Linked DNA regions of Homo sapiens: region 1 is linked to region 2. Evidence: fine-mapped expression QTL. A gene starts in region 2. The other region holds a variant in brackets. All regions are shown on one strand. Distances are between the middles of the regions. Region 1 overlaps IL16 (interleukin 16). Region 2 holds the start of IL16 (interleukin 16).

Region 1 (5,377 bases), 110 kb after region 2:
TGGGAGACCCTGTCTCTATTTTTTAAAAAATAATAGGAAAAGCCTTTTTCTTACACAATACCCGTTAATATGCCATAGAATCAGTGCCTTGAGAAAACTACTCTGGGGACTTCTGACCTAGGGCAGGTGAAGCAAAAGATTTTATATGGAATCCCAACTAGAATCGTGGTGGTACACTATAGGACGTTGTGTTGGGATGGATTCTGAGGGCTTACCTGGTCATTACTGCTGGTGATCTCTGCTCTGGATGGAGAAGGAGGGAATGCTGGCCTCTGTGCCAGCAGCTCCAATCTAGGACACAATTATCTTTAATCTTTGTTGGCCTAAAAATCCTCTAGCATTGACTAACCGGTTCAATCCTCCTCCAGCAAGTATGTGGACTGGACTTGTGTGATTTCTGGTCCTGACTTCCTTTGGTTTGCTCAGGTTCACAGAGTGTTTCCAAATGGGCTGGCCTCCCAGGAAGGGACTATTCAGAAGGGCAATGAGGTTCTTTCCATCAACGGCAAGTCTCTCAAGGGGACCACGCACCATGATGCCTTGGCCATCCTCCGCCAAGCTCGAGAGCCCAGGCAAGCTGTGATTGTCACAAGGAAGCTGACTCCAGAGGCCATGCCCGACCTCAACTCCTCCACTGACTCTGCAGCCTCAGCCTCTGCAGCCAGTGATGTTTCTGTAGAATCTAGTAAGTTCTCCCAACTCAGTGGAAGCCACATGGGCCACATCCTCTTTGGCCATTTGGGGCCAGACCTGATGGGGCTACTCAGTAATTTGTGACCCCAAGAATGTGTGGCTGCCTAGTACACTGCCTGAGACGTGTTTACATGTGCCTGTGTGCAAACACGGGGGCTGTATCACCCCGGGCTCACTTGAAGCCCAGGGCATCTGTGGCCTGGGAGAGGAGAGGATCCCTAACAGAGACCTTGTGTTTTTCTCAGCAGCAGAGGCCACAGTCTGCACGGTGACACTGGAGAAGATGTCGGCAGGGCTGGGCTTCAGCCTGGAAGGAGGGAAGGGCTCCCTACACGGAGACAAGCCTCTCACCATTAACAGGATTTTCAAAGGTGTGGGGTGTGTCTGGTTCTTTGCGTGCTCTCCAGTTGTGGGCATGTGGCCAGGCCCCCAAAAGGCTTCTGGGCACTTTCTGGGCTATGTTGTTTCCCACAACTCCATGTCCTCTTCATAGGCATGCTGGTCCTTTTAGGGCTCAATTCTGCTTTTTCTACTTTTTCTCCTTTGCTCAGACATCCCCTCAATCCCCCCTCTGTTTTGATGGGTCTTCAAAAATACCTAAGTCCTGGGCTTGGTTCGGGTTGGCAGGGCCAGGACTCTAGAGTGGGGCAGTGAGGCACTGGCCTGTGGGGCAGAATTTTAAAGGGGTGCCAAAACACTCAGTAACTCAGATCGATACTATTTTAATGCAGCGTGTTTTTTAAAATTAATTTTAAAAAAACATGTTGGACAAAATATCCAAGTTTAAATCAAGACAGAGTCTGACTTTGTACTGCACACTTGGCCTCATTTGCCTTACCCTAGTCCTGGACACGTCAGCTCCTGCCTTTATTTAAAATGTTGATAGATATTTTGTTCATCAGGGATTGGAGTACAAACCAGTCTGATATGGGGGTCACTTGGATTTCCCTGTGAAAATCATGAATGACTGTGGCTACCATGTAAAACCATCCCTGATTCTTTGGTGTTCCTCAAATTGGAGGTCTCCAAGCCACAGAGCAAGGGGTTGTAGAGAGAGGAGTACTGGACAGGGAGGCAGGTGGGCCAGGTTCTAGTCCCAGCTCTGCCTGTAATGTGCTGAGTGACCCTTCCCTTCTGGGCCTGAGGCTCTTCATCCATAAAAGGAGGTAAAGAGGTACAGGTGTGTGTCTGAGGGCTCTTAGGACTGAGACCCAAAGGGACTCTTAGCTCTGTCCCTCACCCACTATGAGCTCCTGCTGCTGACTGGTTTCGTTAGAGGAAGTTCTGCTGCGGCTGCAGAAACCCAGAAGGTAGAGTGAGGCTTACATGGCATTCCCCCCAGAATCCATGTTAACCCCAATTCTGGGAAAGATATTTCTAATTTTTGAAGGTCAATTTGGAAGGAGCATTGGGTTCAATGTCAAGAGGACTAGATTCCAGTGTTAGTTCTGCCACATGACCTTGGTAGCATGATCTTGGACAAGTCACTTCACCACCATGGGCCCATTTGCTTAAATGTTTAGGATGAGACTGCCAGCTGCAGGGTGATGTTGGAAGGAGAGATGCAGATTCTGGAGCCAGAAAGTCTGGGTTCCAGCCCAGGGCCCACCACTAGCAGCTATGAAGCTCTGGGCCAGTTACTTGAGTTCTTGGTTTCCTCAGCTGTTAAAAGGAAACACAAATAATACACCCCTCATAGGATTACTGTCATAAATGCAAAACATTAGCACAACGCCTGTTAAAATAATTGCCCAATACACTTTAGCTATATTTTCATTACTATCATTAGTATTATCTTCTACTCTTATCAGGATTTGTGAAGATCACTGTGTCAAATGGATGGGAAATTTTATTTTAATATAAACAGTAAAATAGCATTGTTTTCACTTGCAGCTTTGAAATAGTGGGGGCCATATATGGTTGTTTCCTTTTTTATGTGGACACAGAGGACTTCGTGCCAGAGGCAAGATCCCTGTAAATATTGTTGCACAAAAATCTCACTAGCTCTCTTCCCATACCACCCAATGC[T/G]GATGTCCTCACCACATGCGGAGAACAAATGTGAAGGGAGTAGGATATTGGGTCAGTGTCCAAAGCAGGGTCTGGGCAGGACTCAGCTCCCCAGAGTCCTCTATGAACTATGGACGGTGCTCCAGGCAGGCTAAGGCGTGGAGCTGCCTGATATTTCCCTCCCCTGGGGACAGCAAGGGCTATCCCTTTCCAAAGGCCATGGAGAGCTGGAGCCTGGTGCCCTAACCTCTGAGTCACCATCTTAAGAGATGCCTCATTTTAGAACCACCAACAAGCAAGCTCCCAAGGGATGGTGCCCTGTTCTCTACCAAGCTATCCTGGCTCTTTGGAGATCAAGGAGAGGAGGCAACTTTCCTTGTTCCCCATCATCTGTGGAACCCATTACCTTCTCCCTCATTTCAGGAGCAGCCTCAGAACAAAGTGAGACAGTCCAGCCTGGAGATGAAATCTTACAGCTGGGTGGCACTGCCATGCAGGGCCTCACACGGTTTGAAGCCTGGAACATCATCAAGGCACTGCCTGATGGACCTGTCACGATTGTCATCAGGAGAAAAAGCCTCCAGTCCAAGGAAACCACAGCTGCTGGAGACTCCTAGGCAGGACATGCTGAAGCCAAAGCCAATAACACACAGCTAACACACAGCTCCCATAACCGCTGATTCTCAGGGTCTCTGCTGCCGCCCCACCCAGATGGGGGAAAGCACAGGTGGGCTTCCCAGTGGCTGCTGCCCAGGCCCAGACCTTCTAGGACGCCACCCAGCAAAAGGTTGTTCCTAAAATAAGGGCAGAGTCACACGGGGGCAGCTGATACAAATTGCAGACTGTGTAAAAAGAGAGCTTAATGATAATATTGTGGTGCCACAAATAAAATGGATTTATTAGAATTTCATATGACATTCATGCCTGGCTTCGCAAAATGTTTCAAGTACTGTAACTGTGTCATGATTCACCCCCAAACAGTGACATTTATTTTTCTCATGAATCTGCAATGTGGGCAGAGATTGGAATGGGCAGCTCATCTCTGTCCCACTTGGCATCAGCTGGCGTCATGCAAAGTCATGCAAAGGCTGGGACCACGTGAGATCATTCACTCATACATCTGGCCGTTGATGTTGGCTGGGAACTCACCTGGGGCTGCTGGCCTGAATGCTTATAGGTGGCCTCTCCTTGTGGCCTGGGCCTCCTCACAACATGGTGTCTGGATTCCCAGGATGAGCATCCCAGGATCGCAAGAGCCATGTAGAAGCTGCATCTTGTTTATACCTTTGCCTTGGAAGTTGCATGGCATCACCTCCACCATACTCCATCAGTTAGAGCTGACACAAACCTGCCTGGGTTTAAGGGGAGAGGAAATATTGCTGGGGTCATTTATGAAAAATACAGTTTGTCACATGAAACATTTGCAAAATTGTTTTTGGTTGGATTGGAGAAGTAATCCTAGGGAAGGGTGGTGGAGCCAGTAAACAGAGGAGTACAGGTGAAGCACCAAGCTCAAAGCGTGGACAGGTGTGCCGACAGAAGGAACCAGCGTGTATATGAGGGTATCAAATAAAATTGCTACTACTTACCTACCACATGCCAAGCACTGTGCTCAGGGCTAAACGGGCATTGCCTTTAGTGATCACAGCAGCTTCTACGGTGTATGGTTCTGTGCCAATGTATTGATAAGAGGGCACACACTGTGTACAGTAAATGGCTTATCCAGCTGGTGAGTGATGCGGCAGATTGAGTTTTCTTCTGTGATTCGGTGGAGACTATCAGCCCAAGATGCTTTAAGTGCACAACATTACAGGGAATGCCTGAGTGCCTGGCCAAAGGGATATTTGGTTTGGCCATCTCTGGATGCCTGATTGCCAAGCTCAGGACCAGGCAATGTGACTTTGCATCAGCAACAACCAGCATCCCTTGACCAGGCCTGGGCCAGAGTATTGGTCTCCTCTCAGCCCCTGATCCTGTGAAGTAAGGATGTGGGGGAAGACCTGGCAAGGACACAGATGAAACACAAACAATAGTAATTCTCAGGCCATCATCAGTGGAGCCATGTTAATGTAATCTGATGGCTTCTCCAGGGTCCACAGGAAGTGAAGAATCTGTTTCCCAGCAGTGGACTCAAAACCCATCTGGGCTCCTAACCTTCCTGTAAACCCCTTTAGTGGCTTCATTAGAGCAGGCGTTCAGCTCACTGTTCTATTCATCTCAAGGAATAATGGGCTTAGAGCAGTTTCTGTCCTGCTGGTTAACTTGTTTGGCCTATTCCATTCTGGATTTTGTCAAGCAGTAGACAAGCAATTAGACAAGAACTTGGAGGCACCATTTGTATCCACTTTTTAGACTTAATAGAAACATTGAAGATGAACATAATCTACCAACGAAAGACGTGATTCAATTCAACACTCCCTTCCCATGACCCAGGCTGGGCAAGGAGGCCACGTGATGTGGAGGGCACATTCCTTGCCTGCACAAACTCACCATCTGTGCACGCAGTGGCCTTCCCTAAAATCAGGGAATTGTTTTAAGTCTTATCAAGCAGCCAAGGGATGAAAGAGAAGGTGGGTTTTCATCAAGACTGGAAGGTGGGGACAGGGATGAGCATGGAGCTGGCCGTGGGCCTGGGGTACCAAGAGACTCCTTGAGAGACCAGGCAAAGCAAGTGATT
Region 2 (5,377 bases):
AGCTGGGGCTTATTGCTCTGACCCTAAGCTCTTTATTTTGCCATTGTTTGAACAGAATAGGAGATGACCCTGTTGTGTCATTTTAAGGACACACTTTCTTTTTGCCTTCTGAATATGTTTACTTGCCACAACAAACATGTATTACTTTTATAACTAAAATTTTGAAATTAAAAATTTTTGTAATTTTAATTTTTTAAATTAAATTTAAATTTGTAATTGTAATTTTAATTTTTAAAAATTAAATTAGAATTTTTAAAATTAAAATTTTTTAAATTAATTTTTCAAAATTTATAATTTTAATTTTGTAATTAAAATTTTTGTAATTAAAAATTTACTTTTGGAAATAAAATTTTGTAATTAAAAAATAGGAGAATTAGAAGGAAATACAGGTTATTGATTATGAAACTTTAGCAAGCATCAGAATCACTTGTTGAACAGATTTCTCAGTTCCGTGGGCTGGAAGGGCCAAAAAGGTGAGCAGGCTTCTGCTTGGTTAGCTGTTGGCAGCATGCTTCCTCCTCTATTGCCTCATTCTCTCAGTAACACTGTGCAGTAGAAGTTTCTAATTTCATCTGGCAGACAATTAATTTCATCTAATTTTCATCGTAGCAAACTAAGGCTGTGAATGACCAAGATCACACAGGAAGCTCTTGGTTGAGCTTCAAGTGGTGCTTGAACTTCCTAGTTCTAACCAGGGCGGGGCTCTCTCACCTGCGTCTTCCTCCCCGTCTCTTCTGGCTTGCAGTGAGCTGGACTATGGAGTGTTGGGCAGGGTGGAGACTCTTTCTGCAGGATGTCCTGAAGGGCAGAGGGGTGATAAAATTTCCACCTTGAAGCACAAACCACCCCGTATTAGGAAAAATCAGGGCCAAGTCTCAACTACACTTTGGAATAAATTTACCTTCTGAGAGTGAGAAAGAACAGATCTTCGGAAAATAGAGGGAGAGGCGGGAACTGGATTCAGGTGCCGATGACAAGAGAGAGCTTAGACTTAGTGGAGGAGGGGGGCTGTGGGGCCCTCCCAGGCCTCAGGATCCAAGAAGGGCAAGGCCAGCCCCCATAGCCCTGGGGTGCTGAATTGCTCCTCAGCCTCTCTGCCAGAGCAAGATGGAAGTGGGGCCTGAGTCTGTCCTGGCCCCACCGCACCCAGGCCATTGTGAGAGAGATTGTGGGTGTGAGCTGAGCAGGCGACACTGACAGAGGCGCTCACTCTCTGCAATTTAGAAATTCCTTCACTGCACTCCAGACTCACTCCAGACTCAGCCCTACAATGTCCCCTGTGCCTGCTGACAAAGGCAGCTTTATCCCCAGAGTGCTCCCTCCTCCCGTGCTTCCCTTGGGACCGTGGGCCTGTGTTCTCCAGCAGCAGCGGCTAGATCTTTGCAGCCTTGCATGGAATTTCAAGGGCTTCCTACAGGTTGCACCTACACCCTCATTAAAGCCCCCAGGAAGCCCTGAAACATTTGGTGCTGAGCGTTGGGAAACATTCCATTCTTTAGAAGAGAGGTCCATACAAAAACCTCAGCCTAGCATGTACACAGGGCTCACAGAGACTGAGCTTAGGAGAGATGTGTGGGATGCTCTTTGCGGGGCAGATGGATTAAATGCCACCTTATGATTAGATTCTCCAAGGGGCTACGTGGGGGAAAGGCACTCTGGTCTCATGACACTAATGCCAACAGGACACACACAAAAGTGCCCCATTCTTTTATGCTGCAGTTTTCAACATGCTCTGTATACGTTAGGTCATGGGCTCTCGCACCTGAGCACGCACCAAAATCACCTGGAGGCTTTGTGAAAACAGAGTGCCAGAGGTGCTGCTTCAGGAGGTCTAGGCCAGGGCCTGAGAACTTGCATTTCTAGCAGATGCTGCTGATGCAGCTGGCTTGAGGACCACTGAGTTACATAAGCTTCTGAGAGCCAGTCTGTTGTTTTTGGGAAAGGGTGGCACAGACAAGAAATGAAATGCTATGGAAAAAGCCTGGGCTTTGGAGACAGGTGGATTTTGACTTGCTAACTTGCTAACTGTGTGACCTTGGGGAAATTCCACGGCACGTAGTAGGTGTTTAATGAACGTTTGTGCAGTGGCTTTCTTTGTCTGCAAAGCAGGTGATATATTTACCAGATTGATGGCAGGATTGTATGTGATGACTTTTTTCCTCTTTTTATTAAATTTTTATATAATTTGAGAGGAGTTCTTGCTATGGTTTGCCCGGGCTTGTCTTGAATCCCCCGGCTCAAGTGATCCTTCTGCCTCAGCCTCCTGAGTAGCTGGGATTATAGGCACGTGCCACAGCTTCCAGCATGTGATGAGGTTTATAGAAAGCTCCTAGCAGCGTGCCAGGCACATTGCAGGCACCGAGTCATGTCTGCTACCTTTCGGCTCTCCTAGTCATTTCTGTGTTGTCCAAAGAAGGCAGGGGCAACTGGGCTGGACCAAGGAACCTCACTGTGGTTCTGTGGCTCTGCACTGGGTTTGCCTCCTGGGTGTTGCCGGCCAGCCCAGCAGATGGTGGACCTTGTTCTGAGGCTGAGCTTCTCAGCACTGGCAGCCCCCCTTTTTGGATCAAGCCTTTTCACGTGGAGCAGTCAGATGGCTCAGATCAGGAGTCTTCGAGCAAATCCATGCCAGGTGGGACACATTTGTCCTGAGTCACCTGTCCAGAGCAGGTGGTGAATATTGTGTCCTACTCACGGCATCTCAACTATCGGAGCCTGGGATCTGACTCAAAGGCCGGCCTCCGTCTGAGAACTGAGCGTCCATTTCTCAATCCTTGCCGGCTCTGACCCAGGCCTGGGCCACAGGCTGTCCGGGAATAAGTGGTGCTGCAATCCCTGCTGGGCAGATGGAGAGAGGAGCAAGGGAGATGGCAGCCCCGGGGGACTGTGCATAGGGAGGTAGGTGGGCACCAGGTGAGTGAATGTCTGTCAGGCAGCTGCTCTGTCCAGGTGGCCGTTACCGGAGGGAGGAAGCTGGCCTCTCTGACCTGAATGGGGAGGGTCTTGGTTGCTAGGACGTAACTTCATATTTGGAAGTGGTGCTGGGGTCAGGGGCAGGAGCAGAAGCCAGGATTGTGTTGGTAGGAATCTCTGTGTCACCATGTCACAGTTAGGTACAGGAGGAAGCAGCTTCAGAAGGCCAGAGCGGGCAGAGGGATATCGCTTGACCTGGCTCTGCAGCACGGGGAGAATTTGGTCCTGAGATTTCTGACTTTTCAGCCTCGTCTCATCCTTGGCAATGGGGTGTGGAAGGAGGTGGAGGAAAGGAAGGCAGCAGGAGAGAGAAAGGCCACGGGGCACCTGATGGGGGCTTCTCTGCTGCCTGGCCAGACTCCTTTTCTCCAAAGTGGGCACAGCGGGTGGGCATCTCTGCAGATTGACCATGGGAAAAGTGTTCACTCTGCTTGCTTTTTGATAAGGGTCCCGTGACTAATTCCTGCATTGGTAGGTCCCAGGATTGGTGTTTTTTTGTTTTTGTTTTTTGTTTGTTTGTTTTTTTCTTTTTTGGTCCATAGCAAGTTTGCTTTCTGTAGCTGGAGAATGAGGTAACAGCATAAGAATAGAGGTTCCCTGTGGAATACAGGGAAGCATCTTCTCCTCCTGCCCTTATCAGGTGAAATCCTCCCACTTCAGGCTGAGCCATACAAAGACGACCCCTTTGTCCCAGGAGGCCAGTTCAAGCTCCCACTGGGTTCCTGGAAGCAGCCTGGGAGCTGCCGTCTCTGTGGCTCCCCTTCCTATTTCTCCAGTTTCCCCCGGAAGGAGAAGACCGTTCAGCCTTTTTCCTCCTCTGTTCTCCTTCTTTACCCTGAAGTTAAGTGATGGTCAACATTTACGAGCACAGTAGAAGGCACCTCCCCTGCTGCAGATATGACGTGGGCATGAGCCGTCAGGTGGGTCAGACCCTTGAAGCCTCTACTGCTCATTTATTCAATCCCCAGTGAGTCTTTTAAATAAAACTTAGTACCCCAACCATTTCCTGGCCACTCTTCAAGCCCCAGGCACCAAGCTAAAATATTCACATACCTCATTTAATTTAAACCTTACAACAACCTGGAGCTTAGGGAGTATATCCCCAAACCGAGAGGTGAGGAGGCTTGCACAGGACCACTCAGCTAGACGTTCCCAGGACCCAAACCCAGCTTGACTCCAAAATCCATGCTCTCACTGGCTTTGTGGCATGCCTCAATAAATACTTGAGTTTCCTCAACACAAAGATGGTCATATATCCATAGGGTTAAAAAATAATCTCTGTTGGATGCAATTGACTATAGAATTATTATTTTCTAATTGTTTGTATTCATGGAAACCTTTTTAGAATTAAAATCTATCATGAAAACTCATGTATAATCAGTTAAGGCAGAATTATTTTGGCAGAGGCAGACCAGGACCTTGAGACCTGCCCTTTTGTCAACCCCTCCCCCTTTCTGGTTCCCAGCAGTGGCCCAGGGGTATAGGAGTGAGAGGGAGGGAGGTACACTTTGAATTGAAATCTACTGGCCAGGTACAGTGGCTCACGCCTGTAATCCCAGCAATTTGAGAGGCCGAGGCGGGCGGATCACTTGAGGTCAGGAGTTCCTGACCAGGCTGGCCAACATGGTGAAACCCTGTTTCTACTAAAAATACAAAAATTAGCCAGGCGTGGAGGCACATGCCTGTAATCCCAGCTACTCAAGAGGCTGAGGCAGGAGAATTGCTTGAACCCGGGAGGCGGAGACTGCAGTGAGCCGAGATCATGCCACTGCACTCCAGCCTGGGTGACAGAGGGAGACTCCATCTCAAAAAAAAAAAATATATATATATATATATATATATATATATAAAATACATATTTTTTATTGTGCATTTGAATTGGTAATACATTTTCATATATAGGTTACGTTTTGCTATTAAAAAGCAATTCATTGTGAATAGCAATATGCTCATAAACACGGGGAGAAAATAGGCATGGGGCAAAATAAACAAATAGTTCCAAGAACTTGGAGTTGTGGTTAACTAGGAAGGCAGCTTGAAATCAGGAATTTACTTCAAGTTCTTCTTTTGAATTCCTGTTGAAATAAGGACGAATCTATGTCAGTCTTGTAAACTAGACAGTGTTGCTCAGTGTGTGCCAGAAACACTGAGAAGTCTCAGTGGATGTCTCAGGTGGATGTGAAGGACGTTGGGTGGAAGGGCGGAGCCCATCAGGAGGGAGGCGCTGTTCTTGCCACATCTGGAGATGCTGGAGGAGAGGTTTGCTTTGAGTGGGAGCAACTGGTAATGCTGGACAGTGACCCGATGCTGGGATCCCGCGTGGAGATCTCCATCGGTCTTGCCCCTGGCTGAGTCTTGGCATGTGCAGCTGGGATGGAAATGCTCCTCCAGTGGACAGTTACAG

What was found.
Region 1: its variant is fine-mapped to the expression of IL16 in whole blood (TOPMed, PIP above 0.99).

What each region holds. Positions count from the first base shown.
Region 1 is chr15:81,305,482-81,310,858 of GRCh38, forward strand. It overlaps IL16 (interleukin 16), which reads left to right. Exons shown (of 19, transcript NM_172217.5): 17 at 427-685; 18 at 939-1,064; 19 at 3,124-5,377. The coding sequence ends at 3,317. It overlaps STARD5 (StAR related lipid transfer domain containing 5), which reads right to left. Exons shown (of 6, transcript NM_181900.3): 6 at 3,572-5,377. Among named protein-coding and RNA genes, the nearest start is that of STARD5, 16 kb to the right of the region's middle. RefSeq lists a silencer at 3,073-3,250. The variant T/G (reference allele first, on the strand shown) is at 2,722.
Region 2 is chr15:81,194,240-81,199,616 of GRCh38, forward strand. IL16 (interleukin 16) reads left to right here and starts at 2,640. Exons shown (of 19, transcript NM_172217.5): 1 at 2,640-2,913.